3 separate regions of the Homo sapiens genome follow, and all the other regions are linked to region 1. The links come from fine-mapping of genetic effects on gene expression. A gene starts in region 1. Each other region holds a variant in brackets. All regions are shown on one strand. Distances are from middle to middle.

The links.
Region 2: its variant is fine-mapped to the expression of IL1R1 in whole blood (TOPMed, PIP 0.94).
Region 3: its variant is fine-mapped to the expression of IL1R1 in whole blood (TOPMed, PIP above 0.99).

The regions. Positions count from the first base shown.
Region 1 is chr2:102,139,577-102,147,576 of GRCh38, forward strand. IL1R1 (interleukin 1 receptor type 1) reads left to right here and starts at 3,170. Exons shown (of 12, transcript NM_000877.4): 1 at 3,170-3,444. RefSeq lists enhancers at 4,033-4,327, 4,093-4,387.
Region 2 is chr2:102,078,451-102,086,804 of GRCh38, forward strand. It overlaps a transcript of IL1R1 not described here. Among named protein-coding and RNA genes, the nearest start is that of IL1R1, 60 kb to the right of the region's middle. The variant G/A (reference allele first, on the strand shown) is at 4,190.
Region 3 is chr2:102,024,958-102,032,957 of GRCh38, forward strand. IL1R2 (interleukin 1 receptor type 2) reads left to right here. Exons shown (of 9, transcript NM_004633.4): 8 at 1,154-1,296; 9 at 3,269-3,587. The coding sequence ends at 3,435. Among named protein-coding and RNA genes, the nearest start is that of IL1R2, 37 kb to the left of the region's middle. The variant T/C (reference allele first, on the strand shown) is at 3,042.

The DNA of each region.
Region 1 (8,000 bases):
AGTTGTTTGGATCATGGGGGTAGATCCCTCATGAATGGCTTGGGCCATCCCCTTGGTGATAAGCGAGCTTTTGCTCTGAGTTCACATGAGATCTGGTCATTTAAAAGTGAGTGGCACCTCCCGCACCTCTCTCTCGCTTCCTCCTGCTCTGGCCACGTGACGTACCTGCACCTCCTTCACCTTCTGTCATGATTGTTAGTTTCCTGAGGCCTCCTCAGAAGCCCAACAGATGGCAGTGCCATGCTTCCTGTATAGCCTACAGAACCATGAGAGAATTAAATCTCTTTTCTTATAAATTTCCCAGTTTCAGGTATTTTTTTATAGCAATGTAGGAATGGCCTAACACACCAGGATTTCTCTTATTAGGTGGTGCTGAAGAGTGGAAGCTCTGAGTCACTCCTCAGAAACCTTTCAGGGTCTAGTAAAGAGCAGCTCCCTCCCTCTGCTTCTCCCCTTCCCACCTGCTGGTCAACTCTGTTCCTTGGAGTGGGAACAAAAACAAATAGCTTTACATTACCATACATTCTTCTGTACTCCGTGGTTTATGATGTAAACCTTATGGTCTAAGTTGTCCAATACTTTGGCTTTGGAGGTTCAAGGAAAAAAAACATAAAATACTTCTTCTTTCAAGCCTAGCCTTAATGTTTATAATGGACAGTCTTTCAAAATGTCCTGCCACATGGGCCATAGGAGATGCTTTATTTTTCAGGCATTGGATTATGTTGTGTTGGTCAATATGATTTTGTTTCATGTGCATTATCAGAAACTCTTCCCAAAGAGGGTCCTGGGATCTGATCAGCTAGACAAGTGGAGGAGAAACTGAAAACCCTCAGGGGACAGGGTCTCAGTTAAGTCTCCTGAATGATAAGCATTTCAGAGGTGGGAGGGAGACACCCCGGAAGGTGTCCAGAGGCTAACAATGCTATTTCTGTTTCTTGTAAGTTTTTGTCCAAGATGTGGGCCATTGGATTGCATCACTAGCATACAATGTCAGTGTAAGCAGTAGGCTTTACACTAAAGCATGTTGATGTGCTCAGAGCATTTTTGTGGTGCTGAGACCAGAGCAGATAGGGATACAGGGATGACAGTCTCCACCTTACGGAAGCCTCCTACCCAGGGGATGGAGTGAGACAGGCAGGCACACCAGTTATCCAAGGAAAGGAAATAAAGGGAAGGAGAAAGTCAGTGAAAGTGGTCAGGATGGCTGAGTGAGGGAGAAGGTGACTTGAAGGTCCCAGATAGAACAGTGGTAATAAGGTGAGAAAGAGGAGGTCTTCCAATTCCATTTCTGTGTTGGGCGGGTGTTTGAGAGTCCCACCTGGGTCTAGAGGCCTGCATGTCTAGCAGGACACTGGGTAGGAGTGGCTGAACGGGGACAACACTTAAAAAAGACAAAAATTACGGATTTTATTTCTACATGGTTGCACAAATCAATTTCACTTTCTACTTGTAAACTGCTTAAAAACCTTCATTATGAAAATGGAAGGACGAATTTATGTTCACCATCATAGTGCTTCTGGGCTGGTTCCACAGCATGGAGCCAGGCCCACCTGCTGTAGCTTTCAGAACTGCCATTTGGACACGTGGTTGAAGCAGCCTTCAGTTGGAGGATTCACAGTAATGGCATCACTGTGGGAGCTTAGAGGAACAACTGCTTGCAACCCCAGCTGCACTGGAATTACCTGGGAGCTTTAAAAACACTGCCTTTTGGGCCTCAGCCCCAGAGACTCTGACGTGACTGATCTGAACACAGGAGTGTCATGTCCTCCGGTGATTCTGAGTGGAGTCAAGGCTGTGAGACCTTCTGCTGTATAAAGGAATATTGAGAGCTGGGATTGTTAAGGAATTCTCTTAATGCTACGTCACTGGCCTCTGATGTAAGCCTGCTTTCTCGAGGAAAAGGAACCATAAAAGCTTCTGGAAACAGATTGTTTAAGAATGAGAAATTGTCATCATGCCAGGTTGCAAGACAGCTTTTAGGGCAGATGAGCTTCTGCTGCTCATTCCTTCATCTTTTCCTCCAGCCTGGATTTGTCCGGGGGCAGCTGAGGCTCAGGTTACCTCAATTCTTGAGTTTCTGAAGAGGCATATCCAGGGGTGGGTTACGAGAACAAGAGCCTGCCCAGTCTGAAAGGGATGCAGGAAGGGGCGGTGTGTACTAGAAGGAAGGAAGCTATCATCATTTATTAAAACTCTTCTTGGAGGATGGCCCATGAAGACCTCCAAACAAGCTGGAGGGGCCAGTCACTTGCTGAAGACTAGCGAAGTGGAGGGGGAAAGCCCGAGGGAGCTGCAGACTCGACCACTGCGCCCTCCCCTCCTCTCCCTGCAAGGAGCCCAAGGTGTGATCCTGCCAGGCGTTCGTTCGCTGCATGACCTTGGCCATCCTTCCATTCCCCTGGGTGTGAATTCTCATTGGCAAAGTGAGCTGGTGGGCATAAGTGGGTTTTAAGTTTAAAAATTTAAAAACCCTGTCTGCCCCCAAGTGTGGTATCAAGATTTTATAGTATGACACTTAAATTGCTTTTTTCATCCGGGCGCGTAACAGCAACAATGAAACCAGCAGATAACGCGTGAGTAGTATCAGCTCTGGGCCTGGCACTATTTTATATGTATTAGCTCATTTTTTTTAAAAAACTGTTTTCAACCACTCCATGAGATGAGTGCTCTTATGATCCCTTTTTCACAGAAGAGGAAACGGAGGTACAAAGAAATTAGTGCACAAAGCCAGTCGGAGAGAGCCCCTGGCCAGGCACCAAGCTCCAGAGGTCGCTCTGGCGAGCGTTTGCTTCGGGATCTGATGCCCTGGAGTCGCCAACTCAATTCGCGGGTCGCAGCCAGGCTCCATGGGGGTAGTAGAGCCAGGTCGTAGTGGCTAGGTGAGTTGTCTCAACTAACTCTAGTGGAGCCGCCGCAGCCCTGGAGGAGCCGGGCCGCGACTCGAGAGCGCCCGGCAGCTCTCCAATGCTTTGGAACCGGCGGGACCCCTGCGGGCTACCCGGGGCAGGGCGGTGTCCGCAGGGGTCTGTCCAGCCGCGCCTGCTCCTCCGGGTGGAGAGTTGGGACACCCGGCCAGCTCGCTCGCAGCCCGCGGACTGGCCCAGCCGAGCCGTCTCCGCCCGTTCCCCGCCCCCGCAGCGGCGGGGCTAGAGCCAGAGCCGCGCCCGGCAGTTCCCGGCCGCGAGGGCGGGCGCAGCTTGTGGCCGGCGGCCGGAGCCGACTCGGAGCGCGCGGCGCCGGCCGGGAGGAGCCGGAGAGCGGCCGGGCCGGGCGGTGGGGGCGCCGGCCTGCCCCGCGCGCCCCAGGGAGCGGCAGGAATGTGACAATCGCGCGCCCGCGCACCGAAGCACTCCTCGCTCGGCTCCTAGGGCTCTCGCCCCTCTGAGCTGAGCCGGGTTCCGCCCGGGGCTGGGATCCCATCACCCTCCACGGCCGTCCGTCCAGGTACGGGGAAGCTGGAGCATCCGGGGACTAGGTAGGGGTGAGACGGACCACAGCCTTGACACCTTCGAGTCCCCCGCTCTGCAGGACGCCGTGAGCGTCCTCCCTAAGTTGCACTTGGTTGTCAGAGTGTGTTGTGTAAGAAGGGGATGGCGGTGAGGTCTGCGTGTGTGTGTTTCTTGTGTGGAGCAAGAGTTAACGTTGTTCAGGTCGTTTGAAGGAACTTGCCAGTTGTTCTGGAGGGGGGTTCTAGGTAGGTGTGTGACTTCCCGTGTGAATGGCTTTCAGGTTTTCTATCCGGCTACGTTCTACAGGTTCAGGAGCGTCCCTCTTAGAGGTTAGGCTCAGGACCGTCAGTCTCCTTAACAAGGTAAGGGCTGAGGCCTTAACCACACTGGGGAGGGTAACTTGTTGCCCCTCCAGATAAAGGATGGTGCTAGGGAATGTAGCTACAAGCAAGTAGGCGCTGAGAAGACACTCATTATTTACAACAGTCATGCCCAGCACTTTACAGTTTATAAGCCCTTGACAGCAACTGGTCTTTTACCCTCCCTACAGTCTTGTGAGGAGGGTGCTGTCATCACCCCTGTTTTACAGCGGGGGAAGCAGAAGTTTAGGTGACCAACTTGTTGGAGGATGATGTCCTGAAGGAGGGTAAGACCTCTGCATGCAGCCCCCCTCTGTCTTCCCTCCCACTCGTCCTGCCTGCCAGGGCTTTCTCCTCTGCACTGCCGGGAGGAAGGAAGGCCGCTGGGAAGGCACGCAGATGCTGGCTCCTGCTGGGCTGTCTCTCCACTGCCTTATCTTTGGGGCAGGGTAGCTTCTCAGATGGCCACATTCCTGTGATTTAGCTTTACATTCTAGGAACTGAGGCAAGGGACACCATGAACTTGGGCTCTTGAGGTCATGGAGCAAGGGTCCATTCGTCACGGGAATGTGATGGATGTCTCAGTCGCTGCGGTTTGGTGCCAGGCTTCTGGACATTGAATGTATGAAACAGAACTCCATGACTATTGATGAGCTGAGGAAAGCCAGAGGTGGCATGGGGACGTTCACTGTCCTTTTTGCCATCCAGTTTACCAAGCGGCTATTGGCATTGTTTTCTTTCTCAATCCCTTCTAATTTATTGTGTGATATCTCATTTGATATTTCATTTAATATTCTGTATTCATATCCGATGTTAACGTTTATGCTAGACAGAAAGGTAGAGCCTTTGAGAATGGGGTTTGCTGGGGCAGGGGTGTGGAACTCTGATTTATTTTCAGTCTCTGGCTAGCTGCCAAGCTGCTGTGTGTGAAGCGTCTCCTGCACCCGTCCACTCTCATGTGGCCTCCATGCTGTTCAGGAAAGGATATTTGATCTGAATTCTCACATGACCTTGGCAGGCCCAGAGCAGCACCCCCATTTCTAATAGGCCCTGCTTGTATGTCATAATGTGACATCAAGTTTTTTTTTTATGGTTCTGAAACCTGTGACATCTTTTGAGTCAACCTCTCACCATTGTTGAAACACTGCTTAATAGTAGATTCACTAATTTATTAAAGATTTATTGACTATCTACTATGTGCCAGGCACTGTGGTGAGTGGTGGGGAGACAGCGGTGAATACGACAAGTGAAAACCTCTGTCCCCTTATGGACATGAGTCTTCTTGGTAAGACATAGGATGTCAGCAGTCTCTCTTCAAAAGGGGGGTCTTTGAAATCCGCCCCTTTGTACAAGGGTGTGGATGCACTGGCTACCTAGAGGACACCACTCAGCAGCCCCAATGGAGAGGACGAGGAGATGATGGGCACAGATGTAGCTCTGTGGTTCCCTAGAGAATCGCAGGGCTGCTATTCTCCAAGTTTGTGGTGTCCCTTGCCTCAGTTCCTAGGATGTGGAGCTCTAGGAGGTGGAGCTACACTCTGTGGCTTGGCCATGCACAGGGACCAGGGCAGATGGAAACCCTGTGGCTGGGATGCATCAGTGCGAGCTGAGTGTCCACCTGCAAGCTGGGACATTATGGAGAAGACATCTCAGTAATAAGAGAGGCAAAGCTGGACAATTGCGGTGAAACTACCATAGCATAGTGGGTGGAGAAGTACAGAGATCCTTATATTCTTATGCTACATAATGGATATACTAGGTTCTTGCCATTTTAAAAGAAGTTGTCAGGGGCACCTGTGGCTCACCTGCCATGGCACAGCTCCAGGATGCTACCCATCTGTTGCCGTGAATGGGTGCTTGGTTTGCATTTTCTTCTTCTTGAGGTTGTGAGGTGGGCTGGTGGCACAAGACAAGGATCTGCACTGTCAGCAGCCTTTTTCTCCTCTGGTTGTCTGCTGTGGGTCCAGGAAATGCTGCTGGAGCCTCCCGGCCATGCCTAGTGCAGGGAGCATGTGGGAAGCCCTGGCCCCGAGTTATCTCACCAGGTACTGAAAGGGGCTGGAGCTCTTTAAGGTCCCAGTCGCCTGCATGTTGGATTCTGTGCTGTCTCCTCTTCATGCACATCCAGGAGCTCACACATGGCGGCACGATGGAGACACCTATCACTTCCCAAGAGGACTCATGCCCACGAGCGGACAGGGGGTCTCATAAATTAAAAGTAGGGTAAAAGGAAAACAAGAGCGGAGATGAAGTGGAGTCTGAAATGAGGCTTGACATGTGCAGTGTAAACCCTGATGACCTAGATGCTGCTAAAGTTACTCAAGTGGGGCCGTGAATGTGGAGGGAAGCCTGAGTCTTAGCTCTGCCTGCACCTTAGCACTGCCTGAAGCACTCAGGGAAATGCCAGGACTGGATGCAGAGCAAACAAACTAGCATCTCTGGAGGCGTGCTGGGCACGGGTATTTTCAAAGCCCCCCAGGTAGCCAAGGTTGACAACATAAATACATAAATACTCTTTCCTGTAGGCAGTGGGAAAGAGGAAACCCTGCAGGGCACAGCCAGCAGTGTCTTCAAGATGAAAGCAAAGTGCTCAGGAAAAAAAGCATTCTTGGCACAGAGAGAAGTGGGAAGTTTCTTTTAAAGATCCCTGAAAAAGAGGTGAGAATAGTGAGTTTTCGGTGGTCTCTTGAAATGACCCTCCCTGTAAGCACAGTTCGGTAATCATGGTTCAGCGAGCTGTGAACAGGAAGAGTCTAGCCATGCTGGTCTCTGCACATTTGGCGTCCCAAATGTGAGAACTCATAGATCCCTGAAAATACAGCCAATGACTAATGACTAAGAGTTAAATGAAAAGTTAGATGGTGTCACTTTCCATCAGTGGGTCTCACCTCATTAAAACCCAACACCCCCCTTAATGCAAATATTTTAAAACACCCCTTTTATAATTTTGAAACGATATAATAAAACTTATCTACAACATAAGTTTAAAAAATCAATGTAATACTTAGATGTTAAGGAGAAATAAAAGCAATTTGTATTAAAATTATGCATTTCAGTGTGCAGATGCTTGAGCTAAGCTGAACTACAACCTAGTGAGGTGAGCCATTGCTTTCTATAGTCTGCAGGACAGCTGGCATGGGGTGGGAACAGGTGAGTCTCAGTGGCCATCCAAATGCCACTGAAGGATGAATGACTCTCGGTTAAGGTCTTGATGGTAGCCAAAGGCCATTCTTCTCTCAATTTTCACAGTGATTGCATTCCTGAAAAATTTAGTGTGTATAAACTTGTGCCAACAATATATGTATTTCATATGAATGTAGAAGGGAGTTGGGGGGCTAGGCTTCAAACATTGTAAATATGTTTCCGTCAGTATGAACGTCTGTGAGACCTCTGGAGGTCATGCAGGACAAGTCTTTTCTGAGCAGAACTGCCTGTGTTGTTCCGGATGTCAAGCATCGATGGCCTCCAATGCTAAATGCATCCTGATCACCCAGGGTCCCCTTCCCCACAGGTTCCGAAATGCTCCCTCAAGGGCCATACCCACTCCACTGAGAACCACTGCTTTCCCTGCATTGCTGGGTAGTGAGTGATTAAAGTGCCATTGCAGGCGTGGGTGCCGAGATAGCAGGGCACCGGACATGTCTAAGCCAGCCATCAGGAATGCACTTCCGTTGCTTGCTGTAGGATGGTAGAGGTCGAGTTAGAAATCAGAAAGGTTGGTGCTTTGTGTGTGGGGGTGAAGGGCCACAAGGGAACTTTGAGGGGTGGCAGAAATGGTCTACATCCTGAAGTATTCCTGGTGCACACAGTTGTTGCAATTTATGGAACTGTCCACGTAAGTTTTGTGTGTTTCACCATGAGCAATATGGTGAAAAATATTTACCCCAATAAAAAAATTATAGAAGTGAAAACAATGTAACGATTCTTGTAGAGAAGGCTTAGTCCTCTGAAACTGTCTGTGGATCCCAATCTGAGAAACAGCTGTTCTTGCCTGACTGGGAGGCAGTGCTCCAGGGAGAAAGGTCTCTGGTTCTCAGTCAACTTTTTGACAAGTCCAGTGCAATAGTGGCCTTGGCATCGTAGACCCTGGTGGCTGGAGAGGAGATGTGTTGGAGTTATAGGGGAGGCTGGGAAGCACAAGGCAGGGCATTTAGAAAGGGGACAAAGGACAAGAGATGAGGCCCATCCCTGT
Region 2 (8,354 bases), 61 kb before region 1:
TTGAAAGGCACAAATTCCTAGAAAGACACAACTGAAACTGGATCAAGAAGAAATAGATAATCTGAATGGGACTATAATAAATAAAGACACTGAATTAGCAGTCAAAAAACTTCACACACACACACACACACACACACACACACACACACAAGAAAAAAAAAAGGAAAAAAGCCCATGCCCAGATGGTTTCACTGGTGAATTCCACCAAACATTTAAAAGAGATGAGCAGCAATCCTTCAGAAAACTATTTCAAAAAGTTGAAAAGGAAGGGACACTTGCGAATTCATCCTAGAAAGTCAGTATTACCCCGGTACCAACACCAGATGAAAACATCATATGAAAAGTAAAATAAAGACCAATATCCCTGATGAATACAGACATACAAATCCTCAGCAAAACACTGGACATGAAATAGAGCAGCTATAAAAGAATCATATGCCATGACCAAGTGGGATTTATCCTAAGAATGCAACATTATTTCAACATCCAAAAATCAATCAATGTAATGCAACATATTAATAGAATAAAGGATGGAATTGCATAATCATCTCAATAGATGCAGACAAAATGTCTGATAAAATCTGACACCCTTTCAAGATTAAAAACAACAACAACAACAACAACAAACCAACAAAAATCAGCAGAGTAGTAATAGAAGAGGACTTTCTTAACCTGATAATGGGCATCCAAAAAACCCCACAGCTAACATTATACTTAATGATCAAAGACCAGTAGCTTTCCCTCTGTGATCAGGAAGAAGAGAAGGATGTTTAATCCTACCACTTCTATTCAACATTGTACTAAGAATGCTAGCTAGGGAAATTTGGCAAGAAGAAATAAAATTCATATTGGAAAAAACCAGCTCTATTCTCAAATGACCTGGTCTTGTATATAGAACATTCTAAGGAATCCACTAAAAACTATTAGACTACTAAACAAGCTCAGTAAGTTTGCAAGATACAAAATCAATATATGAAAATTAATTGTATTTTTATATATTAGCAATGAAAAATTTGAAAATGAAATTAAGAAAACAATTCTACTTACAATAGCTTCAAAAAGAATAAAATAGCATAAACTTAAGAAAAGAAGTATAAGACTTGTACACTAAAAGTATAAAATATTATTGAAAGTAATTTTAAAATCGCTCAATTAATTGAAAGACATCCCATGTTCATGAATCAGAAGACTTAACTTTTTTAAAGATGGCAGTACTCCCCAAATGTATCCCAGATTTATCACAATCCTTATGAATATCCAAATTGCCTTTATTGCAGAAATTGAGAAACTGCTCATAAAATACACAAGGAAATGCAAAGGATGGAGAATATCCAAAACAATCTTGAAAAATAACAAAGTCAATGACTTACACTCCCATTTTAAAACTTACTACAAAGCAACGGTATCCAAGACAGTAGGATGTTCTCAGAGTATAAATATAAAAATCAATAAAAATAGAATTAAGAATTCAGAAATATGCCCTTACGTTTATGGTCAATTGGTTCCAAGAAAGATGCCAGCAATTCAGTGGGGGAAAGAATAATCTTCTTAATAAAAGGTGATGGGACATCTGGATATCCACATGTGAAGAAAAAATTTGCATCTCTATCTCATACTGTACACAAAAATTTACTCAAAAAGCAATCATAGAACTAAACGTATGATCTAGAACTGCAAAACTCTTAGAAGGAAATATAAATATAAATCTTTGTGACCTTGAATTGGGCAATGCTTCCTTAAGTATACAGCGCCAGAGCACAAGCAACAACAAAATAGATAATTGCACTTCACCAAAATTAAATCCTTTCATGTTTTAAAGTACTCTCTTAAGAAAGTGAAAATATAGCTCATGGAGTGGGATAAAATATTGGCAAATTATCTGATAATGAACTTGTATCCATAATATGCACAAATCTCTGATAAATTAACAATAAAAAGACAACCCAATTAAAAAGTGAGCAAAAGATTTGAATGGACATTTCGCTGAAGAAGATAGATAAAGGGTTGCTAAGCACATTAAAAGATGCTCGACATTACTGGTCATTAGCAAACGCAAAGCAAAACATACTAAGATGCCATCCACTAGAATGACGGGATGAAAGAGGCCAGAAATAATAAATGTTAGTGAGGACATAGAGAAACTGGTACACTCATTTATTACTGGAAGGAATGTAAGATGGTACAGCTACTTTTAAAATAGTTTGTGGTTCTTTGAAATGTTCAACATAGAGTTGCCATATGACTCAGCAATTCCACTCCTAGGTATCTATGTGACATAATTAACAACACAAAAATCTGTACACCAATTTTCATAGCAACATTATTCAAAATAGCCAAAACATAGAAACAACCCAAATGTCCATTAATGGATGAATGGATTAACAATATGCAGTATATCCAAACAACGGAATATTATTCAGCCATGGAAAGGAGTGAAGTACTACCTATACACAGTACAACATAGAGGAACCTTGAAAGCATTATGCTAAGTGAGAGGAGCTAGTTACAGAAGCCCACACATTGTATAATTCCATTTATATGGAATGCTTAGAATAAGCAAATTTATAGAATCAGAAAGTAGTATATAGATTGCCAGGGGCTAGAAGAAAGGGGAACGAAGAGTGATTGCTAATGAGTATGAAGTTTCTTTTGGGGGTGATGAAAATGCTCTGAAATTGGATAGTGGTGATGGGTGCGCAACTCTATGAATATACTGAAACCCTTTGAATTGTACACTTTTAAAAGGGTAATTTTATGCTGTGTGAATGACATCTCAATAAAATTCTCATTAAAATAAGAATATATGAGAGTATCTATTTCTAACTGTAGAGATTTTTGCAAATCCTGCAGAAATATGCTGAATTAGTTACAACCAGCTAAGGGAGCCTGGGATGGAAGAGTTTGAACCACACCCAATGGCCTGCATCTGGTGCTCTCCCAAGATCCATGGAAATAATCTTCCAACCTGCAATGTACCAGGGCATCTACCAGCCTGGCTCCACGGTGGTTTCAGGCATTGCTCTACAAATGATCAAGTTTTCATTCTAGAGTACGAATGAGGATTGAGTTAGACTAACTGTACAAGGGACAGGAAATAACAGCTCCTTCCCTGTCCTGGGGTCAGTGGTTTGAAAAGCACCCCATCTATCAGTGAATATCCAGCTTCCTGACAAAGAAAAGGGCTAGGGGATTTGCCCCCACCCTGTTTAGAAGGCGAAGGCGAATTAGGCCTGAATGGCGACTTGATTCTCATCTGAATATCAGAGAAACACATGTGTTGCAGGCTACACTGGAAGTCCTAATGGCTTCAGTTTGATAGTGGATTTGGGCTTAATGGTTGAGCAACTCCAGTGGCTTCCTCTCTTGATTACGTTGGTGGCTGTGAGATGAACTACCCAGTCATCAGTCATCATTATCAATGGCCCATTTGCCTGGGATGCTTTGGAAGAATGAAAGAGAGTAAAGGCAGTTCTACTTTTAAAGAAGTTAAAACATGGGCTACAGAGCATTTTCGTTTATTGTTTATCAAATGTTAGCCTGCCTCAGAATACCTGGAGGGCACAGATTCCTAGGTCCCACCTCTGGAGCTGCTAAGTCAGTTGATGTGGGCAAATAACCTAACACCTTGGCATTCACTTCCAGGTTTTCTTCATTTCCTCGTCCTCCCTTTCCTTCTTCAAATGTTCTCCTGTTCCTTCTTGGCTTTATAACTATCTTTGTCTCTGCTTCCCTTCCTATACATTGCCTTAATTAATCCTTTAATTTAGATTAAATTAAAGGATAAATATAAATTAAAGGATAAATTAAAGGATAAATCTAATCCTTTAATTTAAATATTATTTCTGGAGATATATTTGCCATGTGATCCATTTTGTTTGTTAGAAAAACACAAGAGAAAAAAATTGCTGATAATCTTCTCAAAAAGGATTATCTTGTTTGTTCTAAAGCCAAGGATGTATAGTGCATCTTGGAATGTTTTGGATTGAGGTGGGACATTTGCTTTCTTTTTGTTTTCAAACATCATTAATTTACTTGGTATAAGAACTTCAGAATCAGCATAAAGTAAAAGTAGTTTCTTAGGAATAGTGTCATGATAATTCCATGCACTTAACATGAGGTAGGTGATAACGGAAGTAGTGGTTTTCTTGATTTTTCTTATTCAAACTGCTTCATCAAACAAAACAAAACA[G/A]AACAAACGCCCTGGAGACAGAGAGTCTTATTGTGCCATAGTATTTCTCTTTCTCTCTCTTTTTTAAATATTTCAAGCGAGCATGCCATCAGCAGGGCTGTCTTCACTGAGCTATTTGTTGCTGGGAGATGTTGTAGACTGTTGCTCGGTCAGTGCAAATGAGAGCTGCTAGCCTCGCTGTAACCTCGCTGGCTGGGTACTCTCAGAGATTGTTAAGAGTTTTAAAATTTTTCTAATCACTAAGCATGTTAGGAAACCAGAGCTTTGTGTATGAAGAACAACTTCCTCTCAGGGACTGTACTCAAGGCTGAGGTTTGGACCTCAGCCAATTTTATGAACGAACAGGAACAATGTCAAAAACATCAGGATTCCTGGTCATGAGGACCAGAGGGGGCCACTCCAATGGGATGGTAAGCTTCTGTAGGGCTGGCACGTGACTTTGCACCCCTGATGCTCCGCATGAAGGGATTTTCTGCACCCAGCAAGTGCTGACTGATTTCCTGAGGACACTTAGTCCTACTCTAAACTCTAAGAAGGTCTAGGGCCACATCAGGAAAGTGAGATTCATGCACTGACTCATTTCCACACTTCAGAGGACACTTTCTTTGAGTGGGTGTTTGGAAAAAAATGCAAGGTAGATGTAATTCTCCACACATCAGCTGATGACTCGTACTGACAGTGTCTAGAATAGAACTTTTTTTTTCCTTTTGGGTAGGTACCTTCTCCCCAGATGGATGGTGTGTTCCCCAGAGTGCCGAGGTATTTCTGGGTGAAGTAATATTGTTCCCTTGTGTGTAATCCTACTAGTTCTCTTTCATGAAGTAGCTGGAATGTCTGAGTGGTCAAGGGTAATCCCTGAGCTGGCCTTGACACAAACAGATACGGGCTCTTCCATCCTTGGGTCCCTCTGTTCTGACACCTGATGACACACTTAGGAGTTTTCCTCTAGTACCTAAAACTATAGTTAGTAGGTACTTAGAAACAATTACAAGCTGTGCTAATGCTTTTTAAAAGTGGAAATATCGGCCAGGTGTGGTGGCTCACACCTGCAATCCCAGCACTTTGGGACGCCGAGGCAGGTGGATCACGAGGTCAGGAGTTCAAGACCAGCCTGACCAATATGGTGAAACCCCATCTCTACTAAAAATACAAAAATTAGCCAGGCATGGTGATGGGCGCCTGTAATCCCAGCTACTCAGGAGGCTGAGGCAGGAGAATTGCTTGAACCTGGGAGGCAGAGGTTGCAGTGAGCCGAGATCACGCCACTGCACTCCAGCTTAAGCGACTGAGCAAGACTCCGCCTCAAAAAAAAAAAAGTGGAAATAGCAATATGTGCTTTAGCTAAATATTAATTTTGTTTTTGCCCTGCCTTTTAGCTCTGTGGTCTTGACCAAGGCCTCATAGCGACTCTGAATCTCTTGCGACTCTGAATCTCTTGCGACTCTGAATCTCTCGCAATCTCAATTTTCTTGTTTGCAAAACTAAGATGTAGCAGTTATAATGTGAGGCGCAAATGAGAAAGGCCATACAAAAACCCTAACCAAAAAATCCAGTAAAATGAAGCTCAGTTAAACTAAAGACAGCCCGTTGACATCTTTTGTGCGTTTCCTCCTTGGTTCCCAGGAATGCTGGAAAAAGAGGCATTTGTTCTAAACATGGAAATGCAGCAAAATAATGATTCTTTTATGGCCTGGTGGTCTGGTTTGACACAATCAATAACTAAAATAAATACACACAGCGTACAGCCCTGTAATAATAGAGGTTGCTCGGAATCAACTCACAGTAGTAAAAATCCTGGTTGAGAAATTATCCCCAAAGATGATATGATTTTATCGCCCCGTACAAAGTTAACCAGTCTTATACATAATATGGATCTTTTCAAACTTTTAAATGAAGTATAATGCATACACAGAACAGTGAACTCATCATGGGCAACTAAATTAATTTTCACAAAATCATATTTTGTGAATATGCTATGATTTATTAATACATTGTACTGCTGATGAACATTTGGATAGTTTCTGGTTTTTGGCTAATAAATATAGGGCTGCTATGAGTATTTTTGTATACATACTTTGGTTGACATTTCTACTATTTTCTGTTGGTCTTGTACCTGTGAGTGAAATTACTGAGTCATAAGATATGTATTTGTTCCTCAGCAGTAGTTACTGCTGCCACACAGCATGGTTCTGCTAATATGTACTTCCAGTGGGAATGTTTGACAGTTCCAGCTGATGGAAATCTTTACCAGCGTTTAATATTTTCTCTTATTCATTTTCACCATTCTGGTAAGAGTGTCCCGCAATTTCATTCTGGCTTTAATTGAATTTCCCCAATGGCTAATGCAGTTGAACACTTTTTCAAATTATTTTTTGGCCATTTAAATATTTTCTTTTGTTAAGGATCAGTTCAACCTTTTGTTTGTATTTCTATTGGGTTACCTAGATTTTTCTTACTGATTTGCAGTGGTTTTTAATGCATTCTGGGTAAGAACACTTTGTCAGCAGTATCTATTCCAAATACCTGCTTCAACTCTGTGGATTGCATTTCATTTCCCTAATGGTGTCTTTGGATGAACACACCTTGATTTATCAATAGTCTTTCTTTGATTATTAGAATATTTTGTGTCTGTTTTACAACTATTTGCCTACTCCAAAGTCATAAAAATTTTCTCCTGTGCATTTCTTTAAAGGCTTTATTGTTTTACTTTTCACATTCAGATCTGCAGACCAACAATTAAGATTTGGATATGGTATTAAGCAGTGGCTCAAGGTTCAATTTTCATTTCTCCATTTGACTATCCAAATGATTCAGTGCCATTTAGAGAAATGAATACTCTTTTCTCTCTTCAGTTCAGTGGCGTGTTGGGCATAAATCAGGTAACTATGTAGGTGTGTATGAGTCTTTTTCTGGACTATTCATTCTATTGCATTGGCCAGTTTGTATAAATTTTCACTGAAATGCTGTCCTAATTACTATAGCCCTGATATAAAATGCTATCTAGTAGGGTAAGTCTTTACTATTCCTCAAGATTGCCATAGCTATTATTTGCATTTAATATTTTCATATGAATTTTAAAATCACCTGTCAATTCCCACAAAATACCAACAGCGATTTTGATTGGGATTGCAATTAATTTATAAATCAATTTGGGAATAACTGACAACTTTACAACATCAAATCTTTCAATTATTGAACATGCTACATTGTATAGCTCCATTTATAAGATATTCTTTAACTTCTCTTGGCAATTTTTAAAATTTTTCAGTGTAGGGAACTTACATGTTTTTCATATTTTCAGAAGAATCACTGTCTGTGTCAGCAATAGCTTTATTTTTAGGTGGTTACTATTTTTAGTGAGCTTGTACATGAAGTAATTTTTGAAACATTTCATTTATGACTTGTTCGTTGATAGAAATAAAAGTGATTTTAATATTGACCTTTTATCCACTAGCACTGCTAAACTTGTTTACTGATTTTAATAATCTGTACATGCTTGTGAATATTCCAGAAAAACAATCATGCCATCTGCAAATAATGGCATTAATTTTTAAAGGGTGGTTTCACTGGGTAAGATTTCTTAATTGACAGTTTAGTTTTCTTTAGGTGCTTAGAGTATGTTGTTCCAATGCCTTTTGGCCTCCGTACTTTCTCATAAGAATTCAGTTGTTAATCACTTCATTGTATTTCCTGTATGTGATGGGTCGTTTTTCTCTAGCTGCTCTCAGGATATTTTCTTTATCATTGGCTTTTAACAATTTGCTTATGATGTGCTTTCTTTGTGATTATTCTTTGTTGGGTTGTATTGAGCTTGTTGAATATGTAAATTAATATTTTTCACTGTTTGAAAAGTTGTCAGTCATTATTACTTTAAATATTTTCTACGCCTTTCTCCCCCTCTTTTTTTTTGGGGATTTTAATTACATATATTTTGGCAGAGCCAGGGGCTCTGTTTATTTTTCAACAGACTTTTTTTCTTTGTGATCTTTCAACTGTGTAAAAAACTCACTAGTTCTTTATCTGTCACTAATCTGCTCTGGGAATCACCTCGTAAATTAAAAAATTCTCGTTACTGTTCTTTCCAGCTGTTTTTAAACGTTATCTAGCCTCCCTTTCTCTCTCAAAGATTTTATATTTGTTCACTCATCAATATCTTATTTAAAAA
Region 3 (8,000 bases), 110 kb before region 1:
TTTGGAGTTCATATCTTTCCATTTTCCACTCTGCAACCTGACTATCAAACATTTTCATAAACCCTTAAAAAGACCCTGAGACCTAGCCACAGTATCTATAGTACCTCTTCTGTTTCTCAGGGAGCTGTGGGCTGCCACAATCTCTAAGGGAGGTTAATAATTAAAAAAAAGAAAGAATTCAGTTCTCATAAGCAGTCATCTCTAGAAAATGTTTTCTTACTCTGAGACTCGAACAATCAGACCTTTTGTAAGTGGGAACTTGTTGCCTGTGAGGGAGACCATTCAACATTCCAAATTGTAACTCTTTTTAAAATTACAGTTTTGATACTTTGAATTAGCCTGAGCTTTTGCTTGCCAAATGGTTGTGTTTTTTGAAAGACTTATCACAAAAGATCTTTCTGGATGTAATTTAGTGGATAAAAACTATGTGTGGGTAGCACAATCATGTGCTTGCAAGTTCTCATTGCAAAAGACCTGGCCACAACTAAATGCCCATCTCAGCTTACTCATATGATCCACTTACTTAAAGGAACCTATATTCCCCCTACAAATAGAACAAAAATATTCCTAGTGGATCCACTCATCTGTGTTTTTATTCACACTAACAGTTAGTAGTGAGGTGTCTACAGATTCCTCTAACACTATAAATGGCAGCTATCCTGGCCACAGCCATTCCCCTGGGCTGTCTGCAGGTTTCCAGAGTGAGAGTCAGCAGTAGAGATGAGAAGAGACGGCACCACTGAGGGCTGGAGTCCTGGAAACTCCCTGCCCTTCAATATACAAGTGATTTAATGGTGAGGGACTCAAGTTTCCTCAAACTAGACGTTTCTGTTCCCATGACTGTTTTTTTTTGTTGTTGTTGTTCATTAAGAGACTTAAAAGATGAACTTCCCCATTATCTAACCCTGTAGTGTAACAACTGTTTGATGCCAGTGACCGCCAACTTCAGTGACACTAAGGCCTTCAGGGACAGGCTTAGAAACTGTCCCAAATGAATCACAAGTATGGTGGCAAGAGCTCCTAACTTTATGAAACTTGAAAACAATAAAAGCGCAATGGGTACTTCTAAAGGAGAGTGTTTAGATGTCTACATTGTGAAAGACAAGCTTGCATTCGATACAATCATAATTAAGTGAATGTTTTTTTAACTCAGGGAATATTCAGAAAATAATGAGAACTACATTGAAGTGCCATTGATTTTTGATCCTGTCACAAGAGAGGATTTGCACATGGATTTTAAATGTGTTGTCCATAATACCCTGAGTTTTCAGACACTACGCACCACAGTCAAGGAAGGTATGTATGTATTTTGGGGAGCACTATAGGAGAATATAACATGTTGAATGTTCCATGGATACTAGACAAATCTACTTGTTCTCCAAATGATTCCATAGAAATTCCCTTGCATTGTCTGCTAGTGGAGAGCTGAAAAGAAACCTCCCATTTTTAAAGAGTTTTGGTAGGGTGGAGGCTGGACTTTGGGAGATTATACTCAAATGAAAAATTTAAATAGCAAGCTGATTTTTGGAAAATGGATGAAATGGTTCTACAGTAAACTTCGAAATACTCTGTCTGCATGTGGCTCTGCCTTGGGTCACTAATCAGCTGTCTTCGCATGGCCTCTAGAAGAGGGTGGATTGTTCTTTATCCTGAAGATGAGAAACTTCATCCTCTAAGAGCTGGGGATTGGGAGCTACCCAGGGTTCAGGGCAGCTTTAGGGTCAAAGTCATTATATGACCGGAAATAGGTACAAGGCTACAGCCAAATCAACCCAGTGTTCATTTAAGGACATTTAAAAAGAAGAAGAGGAAAACCCACATTATCATTTTTGATTAAATTGATTTCATATCAATGTTTAATTGTTGAGCAGGAGGGAGAGCTGCCTTGAATGTAGTCTCTGTTGACAGCCTGTAGCTAATGGCAGGCAAGCCAAAGTGATTCCCAGCATCTCAGTGATGGCTCGTGGACAATCTTACAGCAATAACATAAATACAAATTGCTCCAGGTCTCCATGTTTTGCTGGGGAGGCAGCCACAAACACAGTGTAAACTGGAAAGCCAATGATGTGTTCCAGCCTCAGGACAGGGAATGGCACCCAACTTTCCTCCAACTGTGCGCTGTGCACCACCAGCCTCACACTCACCTGAGCCACTGGTCACAAACACAGATCTCAGGACTTACTCCAGATCCACCCTGTCAAATATTCCTAGGGAGAGGCTGCAGCCTGTGACACAAAAAGCTCCTTTCACAGTGAAGTTTGAGAATGAGGGCACACATGTGAAGGGTGGCGTTTCAGATCATTTCCAGATGAGCAGGCTGGGAGAGATGGTGGTTGTACACATTTACCCACAAAAATCAGAATGTTCCCTCTCGGGGTCAGATTAGTGAGCCCAAGGAACCTGTGGTTTGTCTGGCCCTGATGCTGGGAACCTTTAAAATTTTCCATAACATGAGCCTTGTCCCTGCATGTGGCTGGCCGTGACTGATCCAGGGAACACAGGCTGTAAGTCTTTCACCAGGACTGAGAGGTGTATTCAAACAGCTGCCCAGAATATTACAGCTGAACTTATTTCTAATCTTTGTGGGGTTTTAAAATGTGAGAATCCTCTGGAGCAACAGGCTGAGGTCATGTCGATTCCTGGATGACTAAACAGACTGTGATAGATAATAGCTTAAAAATGCAGGATTCTAGTCTCATCAACAATGTGTCTGATAACACTCTGTTCTCACATTTGCTTTTTAACTTTTTATTCAGAGTCTCTTCCTGTATTTCCATAACACAGAGACGCCAAGGAGCAGAACATAAAATAGCTGGACCCAAGCAATCGTGTTGGCCCCTGCAGCTCCATTATTCAAAATTTATTTTCCTTTGCTACTTCCTTTGATCCTCATGACACCCATGCTCATTAGAAAAGGGCAGATTGTTCCTGGCTCTGTCACAGTTGGCCAACTGTGACATAAACAGACAGCATCTTAAACGCACAGTGTCCCACTGTTGGAACAAAGTTAAACCCTCAGCACTTGCCCACTTACCCTACGA[T/C]GTTTCTAACAGATTTTGCCCTATCACGCTCGTTTCTCTAATGCCACAGACATCACTCTCAAATATCCTCCATGTTGGTGTGAGGGATGTGCTTTCTGAAAATCAATGCACATTTATCAAGAAAAACAAACTCCAATTTCTTTCTTATCTTGTACACCTGCATTGCCCTGTCCTCTTGTACAGTGAGAGACTGTTCAGCTCCTGATGTGACTCTGTTCTTCCCACAGCCTCCTCCACGTTCTCCTGGGGCATTGTGCTGGCCCCACTTTCACTGGCCTTCTTGGTTTTGGGGGGAATATGGATGCACAGACGGTGCAAACACAGAACTGGAAAAGCAGATGGTCTGACTGTGCTATGGCCTCATCATCAAGACTTTCAATCCTATCCCAAGTGAAATAAATGGAATGAAATAATTCAAACACAAACTCCGTACGTCTTCTCTTATGGAAGTGGCTGTGTCTTTTTGAGGGACTCTGTTCTTTGCCTCAGTTGTCTACCAAAGGTGCCACATTTATAGTGGCTTTGTAGTAAAGGACTAAAGTCTTACATTCTGTTTTTTTTTTCCCTAAAAATCAGTGACAACAGTAGATGTGCCTGTGAGTGGGTGTGAGTAGCTGTCTGCTACTTGTGACCTATTTAACAGAATGAGGTGCTCTTAGGCCTGCATGAGAGTGGAAAACATCTACATGAGTTTTGACATTCATTCAACAAAAACATATTATGAGTCTATTTTGACTAGACTCTATGGGAGATGTTGTACATACAGTGATGGTTAAGACATAGTTTGCCTTTCAGGAAGCTGGTTGTTCATTTTGAGACTGAAAAGAATAATTTAGTGCTAAAGCAGAAGAATCAGCAAGAATTGGTGAACTTTTTTGGAAAGGGCTATCCAAAAAATAGCAATTAAAAATACACACATTGGAATGTATTAGTGAACTGAGAATTAGACCCAACTTCATAACAACATGTCTGAAAATAGAAGGAAGGGCATTAAAAGAATTGTAGACAAACTGAATAAAATGTACCCAGAGCCTCTTTCATATCATATACCAAAAATAAAATCCAGATAGATAAATGAGTTCAATTAAAAAAAAAAAAACTCCAATGGCAGGAAAATCAGCACGGCTGGTGACTCCACCTTTCAGGTCTCTGTTCAAATGTGACCTTCCCAGAGGGAAGGTCCCCAGAGAGGACCTTCCTTCCTCTCTGTCCCCTCACCCTGCTTTGTACCATTGTAGCTTTTATCACCACCAGACCTTCCAGTATAGATTTGCTTGTTGATTTTCAATTTATGTTTCCCACCCAAATGGAAGACCCATGAGGTCAGAGAGATTATTTTGGTCCCAGCTGTATTTCCAGTACCTCAAAGCAGGCATTTAATGAATATTTGCAGAATAAATGAAGATGGGATGAACTCTCTCTTGTTCATTACCAAAAGACTTGCAAGAGTAAAGGTGAGTAGGCTTAATTACATTATAATTTCTGCACAACAAAATAACAAAAGCAAGGTTTAGACAAAATTGTGTCAGACAAGTTCAAGGAATGAGTAACTATCATGTGTAGAGTTATTCAAAGTCATAGAAAAGGCATGTGTCTTAGTCTTTTTGGGCTGCTACAACAAAATACCATAACTAGGGTGGCTTGTAAACAACAGAAATTTATTTCTCACAGTTTTGGAGGTTGAGAAGTCCAAGATCAAGGTGCGAGCAGATTTGGTGTCTGGTGAGGGCCCACTTCCTGGCTAATAGACGGCAGCCCTCCTGACTTAATCACCTCCCAAGGGCCACAACTCCTAATACCATTGTATTGGAGGTTAGGGTTTCAACATATGAATTTTGGGAGGACACAAACATTCAGTTTATAGTAGCATCATCACCCTACAGATGAAAAAATGTGAGTAGGGGATTGCAGAAGAGACACACATAAAGGAACTCATGGAAAAATGACACTTTCAGTAAGAACCAGGGGATGTAAATTAGAGCAAATTTGAGATACCAGTGCACTCACACACTATCAAGTGTTTAAAAGTTTTTATGAAACACTCTCACACTTTAATTCAATTTATAATTTGGTGCTGGGAAGAAGAAAGGCAACATGAGCCAAGTCAGTTGGGTGCTGGACCAGCTTGCATCTTCTTGCAAGAGCCCAGGATGTGCCTCTCTTCTTGGCTCTGTTCAGTGATGTCATGTTGGTAGCTTAAAATCTGTGGCCATTGTGGAGTCTTTACACCACAGAAATTGGCAGTTGCCACAAATCAGCACTCTCTTCCCCAGTACATAACAACAAGGTTTGAGAGATGCCCAGTGATACTACTCCTGGGAATTTAGCTTAGGAAATAATTTAATAAAATAAAATCATTAGAGATATAAAATAATTTAATAAAACTTATTACCCCAATGATGAAAAATTATGCAGCAATTATCAATTATAATGATCAATACTATAATGACCAAATTATCAAAATTGTAAGACTTAAATGTTTACAGTGTTAAGGAAATATTATACATTGTTTTGTACAATTTTTATGGTTACAATATTGACATTTGTTTGCATCTAGACAAGGAGAAAACTTAAAAACTTGGACTTTGAAGGCAGACTTTGTGAGTTCAAGTTCAAGCACTGCCACATGGTGCCTCTGTGATCTTGGGCAAATCCTTTAATCTCAAAGTACATCAATTTTCTCATCTGAAAAATGGGGATAATCACTTAGTCCAAATTAACTTAGCTATTTAGCTATATTTTATATTTCCATTTTTCCTATTTTTCTATTTCAACTATAGTAACTGTTTAATAATCAAAAACATAGGAGGAATAGACAGAAATAAAAATTGTTGTACTTGGACTACGTGTTGACAAACCACAGCCTGTGGGCCAAATGCAGCCTGCCCTCTGTTTCTGTGGATTAAGAGTATTAGGAAACAGCCTTGCCTGTTTGTTTGCAGACTGTCTTTGGCCACTTTTGCTCTTTGAAGATAGAGTTGAGTAGTTGAGATGGCAAAACCTAGAATATTTACTATTTGGTCGTTTACAGGAAAAGTTTGCCAATGCCTGGTTTAGGTGAAGGCGGTTTTGAGCAGTTAACTTTTGACCCTCGCTTTTCTATTTTCCTGTTATCATCTCCTCTTTCCTTCTTCTGTTTTCTAAGCATTCAGGGAGGGAGAAGTACGGAGGGGCCGGCAGAGGCCTTTGAACACCTTATTAGATTTTAACCGGAAAGGAGAGGAGAGTGAGGTTTGAGAAGGAGGATTCGGTGAGGACGTTGCACAGGGTTCTTTGACTGCTTCTGCCTTTTCTTTATCTTCAGGCTTGGGGCCACGCGCTTGCATCTCTCTTCCTTCCTCGAACTTCTCCAGTGCTCTCTGGAGTCCCCCGCTTTAGATTCTGGCTGTTTCAGCAATGACCCAGAAAAGGAGCTGACTGCAGCCGGAGGAGAACCACCATCGGCTTTCAGACTCTGCCTTGACCTCACAGGTTACGCATTTCCTCCCCTCCACTATTTCAGAAGTGTGGGGTCACACAGGTAGAAAAGATGCGAGACAATCGGGGAATTTTGAGTGCTGGATTTATGCTAATATTAAGGAATAAGTGTGATATTTGCATTGCTGCATTCAAAAAAGGTTATTATCTAAGAGGCAAACTAAATATTTATTTATTTATTTATTTATTTATTTTTTTGAGATGGAGTCTTGCTCTGTCGTCCAGGCTGGAGTGCAGTGGCGCGATCTCAGCTCGCCGCAAGCTCCGCCTCCCGGGTTCACGCCATTCTCCTGCCTCAGCCTCCCGAGTAGCTGGGACTACAGGCGCCCGCCACCGTGCCTGGCTAATTTTTTTTGTATTTTTAGTAGAGACGGGGTTTCACCGTGGTCTCGATCTCCTGACCTCGTGATCCACCAGCCTCGGCCTCCCAAAGTGCTGGGATTACAGGCGTGAGCCACCGAGCCTGGCTGAGGCAGACTAAATTTTTTATGGGTGATGTGTGAGATTTGCTTCGAAGTTATCCAGTGGTGGATGGGAGAATACATGAAATAAGATTGGCCAAATGTTGATAACTGTTGGCCTTGGTGATGACTGCACCCTGCTTCCTTATATCATTCTTTCTACTTTTGTATATGTTTGAAAACTTCCATAATAAAGAGTAAAATACAATCCAGCAAAAACTCAATACCCGCTAGACAAGAGAATGTGTAGCTCTTACAAGTAATAAAATGCACTACAGTAAAAAACAACATGGAACAATATGGATGAATCTTAGATATATATTATTGAATGAGTCCCAGAAACATTTCTTAGAATGATGTCCTTTTACATAAAGTGAAAACAACTAAAGTTAATATGCTCTCTCTCGAATATGTGAAAGCATCTTCATATATATTCACACACACGGTTAAAATGTAGTTTTTGTCATATATATGCTCTTAAATATAGATGTGTGTGTGTGTGTGTGTGTTTGTTTGGATAGTGATTACATCAGGGTTGGGATGGATTAGGAAAACATAAACTTCATTAAGTTCTAGATCTCATGTTAGGTAGTAGACTGTGATTGTTTACTTTATTATTAAACAAACAGATTAAAAAAAAACACAAGCTATTCAGGGACCAATATAGAATCTGTGTCTTGAACCAAGGATTATGACTAACCTAATTCTGTGTCCCTAAGTCCAATTTGAACACACAAACAGATGGACAAGTGAAACAATGTGGTTTCTTTTCTTAAAGTGGCCTATCTCCTCTATTTTTTGTTGATTCTGTTGTTTTAACTTTCTGAAGGTGAATTTTTTCACCCCCAACCCTACAAAGGCTGGGGAGAGGGGGTGATAAATAGTTTTTGGAAACCTCACACTTCCATGCACTGCCCACAGGAAAAACCCACGTCTTATGTAATAAATGCCACTTCTGCAAGAACTAAGGATGAGAGCAGACATCAACAACAGAAGCCAAGAATAATTTATGAGCTAAAAA